Regions from separate parts of the Homo sapiens genome. Here region 2 is linked to region 1. The links come from fine-mapping of genetic effects on gene expression. A gene starts in region 1. The other region holds a variant in brackets. All regions are shown on one strand. Distances are from middle to middle. Region 1 holds the start of ABCA8 (ATP binding cassette subfamily A member 8). Region 2 overlaps ABCA8 (ATP binding cassette subfamily A member 8).

The links.
Region 2: its variant is fine-mapped to the expression of ABCA8 in testis (GTEx, PIP 0.98).

Annotation. Positions count from the first base shown.
Region 1 is chr17:68,952,599-68,957,992 of GRCh38, reverse strand. ABCA8 (ATP binding cassette subfamily A member 8) reads left to right here and starts at 2,601. Exons shown (of 40, transcript NM_001288985.2): 1 at 2,601-2,774.
Region 2 is chr17:68,928,161-68,933,554 of GRCh38, reverse strand. It overlaps ABCA8 (ATP binding cassette subfamily A member 8), which reads left to right. Exons shown (of 40, transcript NM_001288985.2): 6 at 284-387; 7 at 1,041-1,267; 8 at 3,853-3,994; 9 at 4,321-4,506. Among named protein-coding and RNA genes, the nearest start is that of ABCA8, 25 kb to the left of the region's middle. The variant G/T (reference allele first, on the strand shown) is at 3,075.

The sequences.
Region 1 (5,394 bases):
TGTGCACTGTTTTTGATGCTCTTTTCTAATCAGAATAGAGAAGAATGCATCTGACTAATCGCTGGCTAAAAATCATGTATCTGCTCTAGGAATAGATACCATGTCTGACAAAGCAACTCTAATTAGGACCACTAGTTGTTTGAGCTTGAGATAGTCTAAGCATTCTCTAGAATCTTTCTGGCTTCTGCAAGGATCAGGCTGGCAAATTAAATTAAGGTGTGCTAGGCACCACTACCTTTCATCCTTATGTCACTATTTGTGGCATTGGTCTCTGCATTTCTTCTCCCCATGTGGAATACTGTTCTTGATTAAGTGTCATGGCTGGGGATAAAGTTGGGAGAATTGTCAAAGGTGCCCACTTTCCCTTCTGCATTATGATAGTTTTTACCCTACAGGCCAAGGACTCAGCATGGAAGTTATTCTAACTACTAGATATGTCAATTCTAACAGCACATTTGGTGACAGCAAAATCACCACTGGGTATGTCCATAAGTCCAGTGAGACGAGGCAGAGCTGCTTGTTAACCGGAACTCCATTTACGACCTTGGCTCTATATTCTCAATCTAGCTGTAGGGCCTTAGTGTGGGTTGCAGTTATCAATGTCCACTCTGACTTTATGCCCAACAACCCTTGACATGTCTGGGGATTTTTCTTTCTTCAGTGTATAATCACCCAAATAATGGCTTTAGGTCCCTTTGAGGGAGGACTAGGAAGTATAATCACCACAGTATATACTTGTCAAGATGTTGCAAGATCTTTTCTTCTAGGGGTCTGACTAGTTTTTTAATCAATATGTTCTGTATCTGAAAAGTAGCTTAGGACTAGGAGCTGAGCAAGAGATCATGACTTTTTATTGGGGTGATGGAGACCATGTTGAGCCTCTTACTCCTCTATTTCTTCCCCTTCTGGTTATATAGTTACTGAGCAGCACCCTTGTTGACCTCCTTCCTATTTTGTCTGTATATCATAGTAAGGTTTATATATTTCACTTAAAATGAAGAAATATTAATTCTGGGTAAAGCATGTCAAGTTAAGTATGTCTTTTGTAATCCTGAGAGTGACCACTAAAATAACTATACAAATAGATACAGTTAAGAAACATAATAGATACGTTGAAATGCAATACCAAAAAATAATTTCAAATAACCAACAAGAAAGCAGAAAATGGGAAATAGGAGAATTAAAACCAGAGAGAAAAGAAGCAAATAACAAAATGGCAGATCTGATTTTAAAAATCAATAGCTACATAAAATGAAAATAATTTAAACACACCCATTAAAAGATGTGCATTGTCAAATTGGATTTTAAAAACCAAACTCATGACTCTATTATATGCCATCTACAAGAAACTCACTTGAAATACAATTTAGAGCTGGGTATAGTGGCATGTATCTGTAGTTTCAGCTACTCAGGAGTCTGAGATGGGAAGATCACTTGAACCCAGGAGTTCAAGTCCAGCCTTGGCAACATAGCAAGACCATCATCTTAAAAAAATAATAACAAACACAGACGCACACACACACATACACACACACGCATACACATATAATATGAATGTGATGTTTGGCAGGGCCAACAGAATTGAGATCATAACTGCCACTCTGAAAGCATATAGTGTGTGTGTGTGTGTGTGTGTGTGTAGATAAAAATAAACGGATGAAAACAAAATACCACGAAAACAATAATCACAGGAAAGTAAGAATGGCTATATTATTAATATGAAACAAAGTAGACTTTAGAACACAAAAGTTACTAGAGATAAAGATTAACATTACATAATGATAAAAGGGTCAATTCACCAAGAAGACATAACAATTCCAAATGTTGCAAAATACATCAGGCAAAACATGATAGTTTTAAAGGGAGAAATTTGAAAGTCCCTAAGTTTTGTTAAAATCTTCAACATTCCTCTCTTAGTAATCAACAGAACTAGGAGACAGAAAATTAGGAAAAATATAGAAAAAACTGAACAATATCATCAACCAACTAAATGTAATAGATATTATATAATATTCCACTCAACACCAAAAAACTATACAACTTTTCAAGTGCCTATGGAATATCTGCCAAGATAGATCATATCCTGGGTCATCAAATAAGCCTTAACAAATTTGACATACAAAATATTTTTTCTGAGTATAATTGAACTTCTGATTTAAAATTAAATCAATAACCAAAAGATAAGAAAATCTTCAGACACTTGGAAATTAAGCACATTTCTGATTAATCCGTGGGTCAAATAAATTGGAAAATAGTCTGAACTGAGTGAAAATGAAGCTGGGAAGCAGAGGAATGAAAATTTTGATTATCTAGGTAAAGCTGTCAATTAAGCAGACTAGAGCTCTGGGTAGAGAGAAGAGCTTTTCTCTGATTAAGCTGTTTACTTTCTCATGGCTTAAAGACAGCACTTTAAATTTTGGTATTAGCCACAATAATCTTGGACGTAAAAGAGAAATTGCTCCCTATAATATGATATAGCCAGGCAACCCAGTATAAATGCCACTGCTCTGCAGGAACTGGCCGAATATCAATGAGAAGACAAACAGTCCAAGCATGATGACGTGAATGTGATGTTTGGCAGGGCCAACAGAATTGAGATCATAACCTCCACTCTGAAAGCAGTCTTCACAGAAACTTTTCACAGAAGTCAAATAGTTAAAGCAAATTCTAGATACATGGTAGAGACCAGGAGAAAATATGAATAACTTTCTTCTAAACAAGGAGCTCAGTGGATAAACCATACCTCTAGATTCCTTGCTTCCATTTTCCCAGAAGTAAGTTCACTGTATTTTTTCTGTTTTGTTTTGTATTTTGCTTTTGTGTGTGAGTTTGTTTCAGAGGTTTTGTCTTTTCTTATTCCTATCACAAAATTATAAATAAACCTTTATAAACTGAATGACAATCATCTATGCAGAAATTATTTTGAAAAATATTGGGCTACTTTAAAGATTTTATATCTGGTAATTAATATTAGATAAATAAAAACATTGAGTTAGAATGTTTTTTAAAAAATTATGCAAACATTATGTTGTTTTAAACATAACTGAGTGTAGAAATAAGTTTAAATTGGCTAAAAATTTTTTGTGAAGAGCTTAGAGTTTTAAGAATTGGGTTGGAAGACTGAGTTGTTTTTGAAGTTAAAGTTATCTACTTTGATTGCACAATAATGTAGGGCATTTTGGATAAGTGTTCTTCTGACTTTAAGACTGTTTACCAAGAGCACTTACAGAAATATTTTTATTGTTCCTATCGCTCACTCTTAGTCTATAAGAATTTTAGAAATGTAAGATTCTTTCTAGGATCTTTTACTCGTTGGATACAGTGAGTTGAATCAGAATGTGAAATATGTAGCTTCTCTTTACCACAATGTTATTTAAAATGTACATTGGTAAAAAGAATTTTCATACTCCTATAGTGAATACATGTTGTTCTGAATTTTACAACAGTATAAGAGGATAAAAATGAGTCATTACAATTTGAGACTATTTGCCATATGTATAATAAAGTATTCATGTTTTTGCTAGCCTTTACATAAACTGCAGAACATACAAAAATTGGAAAGAAACAAAGTTGGCAATAATACTTTACGATGGAAGATATAAGGGATTGGAGTCAGACTGGAGTTTGCATGCTACCTAAGACTGTAGCTGATTCCATAGTGAGGAGATCATCCTCTTGGCCAATGTCTATTAACTTCGCCAGTGAATTATGCATTTCTGTAGAGAAGCTGTGATATATTTGGGCTTGTGCATGAGGTGGAGTGTAGGGAAACATCACACTCTGGGGACTGTTGTGGGGTGGGGGGAGGGGGGAGGGATAGCATTGGGAGATATACCTAATGCTAGATGACGAGTTAGTGGGTGCAGCGCACCAGCGTGGCACATGTATACATATGTAACTAACCTGCACAATGTGTACATGTACCCTAAAACTTAAAGTATAATAATAAAACGAAAAAAAAAAAAGAAATTCCTCCTGTACAGAGCTTGCATTGGCGGCAGCTGCTTTAAGAACCCAGAAACTTTTGCCCTCTCTGTAGGCTAGCTCACTGTGAAAATATCCCATGGATTTTACCTAAAATTGCTTACAGAGAGCGGCATTATACTTCTATAGATAATTGCATCAGTAACCAGAGAGGAGAAGTACAGCAGCAGACTACCCTCTACCCCCGGTAGGAGTAGTAGCACATCACAGTTTCAGCAAGTTCAATCTTGAGCAAAGAACATGATGTGATTGTTTGTGGGTATGTCTGTATACGGAGTGTGATTTTAGGTAAGGAGAGCCTTGCACAGCTCTCTTAAAAGTATCCATGCTGAATTTTCTGCACCTTAACCTAGGCTGCTTTACTCTTGGAACTGTCTTTCCCTCTTCTCCTTCCATGGGCTCTCTGACCTCTTTACTTGGTCTGCTTCCACTTAGGCCTGCCCCTCAGCCTCATTGCATGGCCATGTGTAGGTTCTTCTTCTAGCAGTGTTCTCTGAGACTGCTGTGGCTAATGTGCCTTCTGTTGCAACTGACCCCTGGACACCTTACTTGAGATTTGGCTCTAGAAAGTAGCACCACCCTGTGTGTGATCCTGTCCCATAAATGAGATGATGGCTTCAGTTGGGGCTCATTCACTTCTCATCACTATGGAGGAGTTCATAGAAACTGCATGGCCAACATGGCATGCATACGGAGGGAGATCACTTGCTTCAGAAGTCAGGACTTATGAGCCAAATGATGGTCTTCAGGGTGGAGCTGCTGGCTTTGTGCTCAAAAGTCTGGACCCATTCTTCCAAGTCATGTCCTTCACATGCTTCCCAGAAAACTGATGATGGTACCTTCCAGAATCTCTTTACTTTCTATAATTCAGCTTAGGTAGCCTGTTTTCTCCCACGGCAAAGACCATTTGAAAGCACTCTAGTCCTACAGTTTTCAGGAGTGGCTTAGCAAATCCTATTTGTGTAGCAGTGGTTGATTGAAGTTCTGGAAAGATGTGGTGCTCTTATTATGCACTGAATTATCTTCTTCTGGGAAGTATTTTATGTGCCTGCTGCAATAAACTGTATGTATAAATTCCCCTACAAAATCACCCCCCATATACAGACATACCCAGAAACAATCACATCATGTTCTTTGCTCAAGATTGAACATGCTGAAACTGTGATGTGCTACTACTCCTACCAGGGGGTAGAGGGTAGTCTACTGCTGTACTTCTCCTCTCTGGTTACTGATGCAGTTATCTATAGAAGTATAATGCCACTCTCTGTAAGCAATTTTAGGTAAAATCCATGGGATATTTTCACAGTGAGCTAGCCTACAGAGAGGACAAAAGTTTCTGGGTTCTTAAAGCAGCTGCCGCCAATGCAAGCCCTGTACAGGAGGAATTTCTACACTCCACCTCCTGCACAA
Region 2 (5,394 bases), 24 kb after region 1:
ATTCTTCATCAGCAGAAAAGCACAGGACACGGTATGAGAAAGCTTAGAGTGTTATAATTTAATGTAAAACATTTCCTAAGAGTGCTCCACCTCATGATTCTGCCTGATTCATTTTGAGAATCATTGTTATAATTTATGTTTTCATAAGCTTTGAGTCAAAATAAGAACATTTGGAATTTGGGGTCATTGTAAAGTCCACTGTTTGCTATAATCAGTATTAAAATCATATTTCAATAATATAGATAGTGATGTAATGATAGTTATGATTTGTTTTTTCACAAAGCTCATTGTTATGAAACAAATGAAGATGTTTACTGTGAAGTTTCAGTATTTTGGAAGGAAGGTTTTGTGGCTCTTCAAGCTGCCATTAATGCTGCTATTATAGAAGTGAGTACAAAATGTTCAAAGCAAACTAATGTTTAATGCAAGTTAATGATATTAGAGGCATCAAAAGTTTCATGGAAGAAAATATAAGTGGATAGCCTTGTTATTTCCTTTGCTCACTCTGAAGTTTACTGAAGTTACTATATACCACGGAATGTAGATACAAACAGAAGAAAAAGTATCTCATTCATGGACTCAACTTTGTTGGGAAGCCAGGAATATAAGAAAATTATTAGAACAGAAGTAGACTATTACAGAACTATAAATCAGGTCCTCATAAGTAAATGAGTAAAAACCTCTCAGCCTTAGAATGCCATGGAAGAATGCCTAATTGAAATAACATTCCAGCTTGAAGCTTGAGATGAGGGGTGGCTTACTGAATATATAAATTGAGAAAAGCCATGCCAAGCAAATCATAAAGTAATGTTAGGCAGGGAGGTAATGAAACACACAGTAAATTCTGAGAGTGGTGAGTAACTCAAAATGCCTGGACTCCGAGGTCCCAGCAGGTCAATGACAGGACATAGAAGTGGAAATTTAGGTTAGTATCAAATCCCAATAGGCCAATCATACATCCACAAGAAAATAGATGGTTAAAAGAAAACTGCATGCTGTTCATTAACGTACAAATTTTGCTTATTAATGCCTTTCTTCAGATCACAACAAATCACTCAGTGATGGAGGAGCTGATGTCAGTTACTGGAAAAAATATGAAGATGCATTCCTTCATTGGTCAATCAGGAGTTATAACTGATTTGTACCTTTTTTCCTGCATTATTTCATTTTCCTCATTCATTTACTATGCATCTGTTAATGTCACAAGAGAGAGGAAAAGGATGAAGGCCTTGATGACAATGATGGGTCTTCGGGATTCAGCGTTCTGGTGAGTCAAACGCAGCACAAATAAATAAACGGAGGAACTCAGGAAAACTGGGAATCTTCAATGCATCTTTTTTTTTTTGAAATGGAGTCTCGCTCTGTCGCCCAGGCTGGAGTGCAGTGGCGTGATCTCAGCTCACTGCAAGCTCCGCCTCACAGGTTCACGCCATTCTCCTGCCTCGGCCTCCCAAGTAGCTGGGACTGCAGGTGCCGACCACCATGCCTGGATAATTTTTTGTATTTTCTGTAGAGACGGGGTTTCACCGTGTTAGCCAGGATGGTCTCGATCTCCTGACCTCGTGATCCACCCACCTCGGCCTCCCAAAGTGCTGGGATTACAGGCGCGAGCCACCACGCCCGGCCTCTTCAATGCGTCTTTATTAAAACCTGTTTCTCCACAACCAAGGGGTACAAATGAGAGATACCTACACAGAATAATTTCAGATCATGAACAAATTTCCACTTAGTTAATTTCAGTGGGGAGAAATGCTCTGCAGTGATGGACAAAAAAAAAAAAAAAAAAAAAAAAAGGAAATGTATTTTGCTTCTGGAAATTTTACAGGACTAAGTAGAGAGGCTGGTCATTTAATATATTTAACAATCTCTGACCCAATTTTATCTAAATCTATTTCAGATTCACTGTACTGTGAAGGAACTGCTATAGGAAATAAGATAAAAGGGGACAGAATGTGCTAACATTTAAGAAAATACAACTTCCATTACGAATAATATTGACTTTTTTAGAAAGGAGGAAGATAATCTTTTAAAGAAACATAAAAAGTAAATAAAAAAACTTTGAGAAAACAAATAAGGAGCCAAATGCAGAATTTTACAGAAAAAATAATGTCACAACTATCACACATCAATGTCCATTTAAAAAAATGTGTTGCCATGAATAAGAAAATGCCACTTTTAAACATTCTTTAGTAACAAGGAAAGAAATATAAAAATCCTTTATCCCCATGAATGGTATAAACTGTCATTGGTGTAATGTTTGCCAGGCTGAGGCTGCGTCTTACTGTGCTTCTCTGAGTTAAGGAAGAAGATTGGGGTTAGGTTATTGGTTGATTGTGAAGAAGGTGTAATGAGGAATGGCCATGGCAAGAGAGGCGTAAACAAGATAGACAATGGTGTCTGTGCCAGACAGAGGTGAGATGTGAGCTAGGAGGGGATTGAAAGGGAAAAAGAAGCCGAGGACCAGGAACTCCTTTGAGACTGAGGAACATGCTTGGTGTGCCTGAGGGAATGAGCTGGCAAAACAGGATGGTGAATAGGGGCTGGGTAGTGTGGGTTTAAAATGTCAGAGGTTGGGTGATTCCAAGAATGGACAAGGTTCTGTGTGAGAACTTATGAATAATTGACTGAAAGAGCATGGAGGTGATGTTTACAGGGAGTAGGACATTAAATAACAGAGAGGCTAGGGAGGCAGATGGGCTGTGCATAGGGCAACAAATTAGGAGTCTGGAAGAGTTCCTTCCAGTATTAACATCTTATACATCAATATTGACCTCTTGTTTGAATTAATACTGGAGGGAAACGTAGCAGAGCAGTGAAATCTAAAGACTATAGAGCCAAAACCCCTGAACTTGAAACATAGTTACATAACACCCTTGTTCATTAGGTTCTCTATCAATAAGATGAGGAAAATAATGGTATTCTGAATAGGGCTATTGGGAGAATAAAATGCTTTAATGTTTGCTAAGTTTTCTTCAATGCATATTAATTGCTATGTGTGTGAGTTATTATTGTGTTGGCTTTGCAGCTGTTTTGTTTTTGTTTTTTAAAATTATTATTTCATTATAGTTTTCAAA[G/T]AATATTGTAAAACAAAAGAAAAGAAATTGATGAGGAAAGGAAAGTGAATTATTCTGACATAAAAGAATGGGATTCAAAAAAAATCTTTCTTAACAAAAACAATGAACGGAACTAAAGGCAAGTATGTAGACTTTTCAGTGAACACATCCAGAGAAAGATGACAACAGCTTTTGGGGAAGGAGTGACATGACCAAATTACACATAAGGAAGAATTTCTTGTCTCTGAGGAAGCTTGTGATGGTCCTGAACTTGGAGAGACTCCAGAGAGGAGAGAAGGGTCTGAGGTTCACTGAGGGGCTACCCTGTATTAAGACAGTGCCCTACATAGCCATCATCTTATTTAGTCTTCAGTGGTAGTATTATTCCTGGTGTCCAGAGAAATAAAGGAATAATAGAGGGGTTACAGAGGTTGCCCAAGGTTACAGAGCAAGAATGCAGCAAATAAAATGTTCGATCCAAAATCTATTACACTGGAAACCTAATTCCCCCCCCACCGCCCCCACCCCCCAGAACAATGTGCATGTGTGTGTGAATGTATTTCTGAAATCAATTTTAGGAAAAACAATTCCTAATTCCCAAAGAATATTCCTAATTCTAAAGAATTCTGCCCAAAACTTTTACCTTGTATTTATATATCTTAGAACACCCAATAAATAAATGTTGAAAGAGAGAATGAATGGATGAATAAGTGAATGAAGAGTTATCTTAGAATCCATTTCAGGTCTTCCTTTTCAAGTGAACATAAAATACTAAAATAACATTTTGTTTCCACATTAGGCTCTCCTGGGGTTTGCTCTATGCTGGTTTCATCTTCATTATGGCCCTTTTCTTGGCACTTGTTATAAGATCTACCCAGTTTATCATTTTGTCTGGCTTCATGGTAGTCTTCAGCCTCTTTCTCCTGTATGGATTATCTTTGGTGAGTTAGTGAATTAAATATCTTTCCATCCACCTATAGCCTAAAAATTGTTTGTTTCCGACTGATTACTCTGTATGCCTCCTTTTTTTTCTACCTACTCTGTTTGCATGTGAAAAATCTATAAACAGGTACAATTTGATTTGAGGTGTTTTGTAATGTCAATTTTTAGTGCAATTTGCAGAGCATAGTTTTGTATGTTATATACAAAATAACTATAATATACAACTGTTACATACACAAAATAACTATAATTTTGTATATCTATTTTATTATGCTAGTAATAATGTTAGAGAAACATAAACCAACTAGATCTTCTCTCATTTTAGGTAGCTTTGGCTTTCTTAATGAGCATCTTGGTAAAGAAATCTTTCCTCACCGGCCTGGTCGTGTTCCTCCTCACTGTCTTTTGGGGGTGTCTGGGGTTCACATCACTGTACAGACACCTTCCTGCATCCTTGGAGTGGATTTTAAGCTTGCTTAGTCCCTTTGCCTTCATGCTTGGAATGGCCCAGGTGAGATGCCATCTGAATGTCTATTAATGGCATTTCTGAAACATCTGTCCCTCTGGAATCCATAGGCTGTAATCATTTACAAACTCAGCATTGTAAGGCTTAAAATTCTAGCGAAGGCTGTTGTAAAGTTGCAAAGACAGAACTTTTAAAAGCTTGGAAATTATTTAGCCCAGCAAAATAAGACATTTGGAAAGTGAAAAAAAGAGGATCAACATACAATTATTTAAAGGCAATATAAAGTATTTTCTTAGGCTATTAATTAAATATGGACATGTGGCAAATCTAATTATAAATAACTATTCCAGTTCATGTTTTTACCTAGTAATTGAAGAGAATACGTGATTAAAAACCATTAAATCAAATTAAATTAAAAATTTAAAACATCTGGAAAATTCATTAGTAAATTATGTTTCTATTCATAAAATGTCTTTTCTGTTTATGTGATTCTTATTGAATTCCCCTTGCCTTCCCTCTAACTAAATGGAAATGTCAACCATTAAATATCCATTATTTAGTGTTTAACAAAAGGATTGTTAATTATAAAGAGCTCATTAACTTGAACATCATAGACAAGCCCACTTCTGGTTCTACTTAAACACAGCAGTGCCTTTTGCCCAGAAATTCTCCCTCATGCCGCCAATTTACATGGATCACCACACCTTTTGACTGTGTCCTATTTGGTAAAAGTTCATCTAAGTTCGATCTCAAATGTCATCTCTTCCCATACTTCCCTACTTCCTCCTAATGTTTCAATTTCATTTGGAACATATTTTTATCATAGCAATTACTAAATTGCATTCTAGTTGCTCATATGTCCATGCCTTCCAAGGCATAGATTTGAGAACCATAAAGGAGGCAGTCTCCCTATATAACTCTATTCTCAGTATG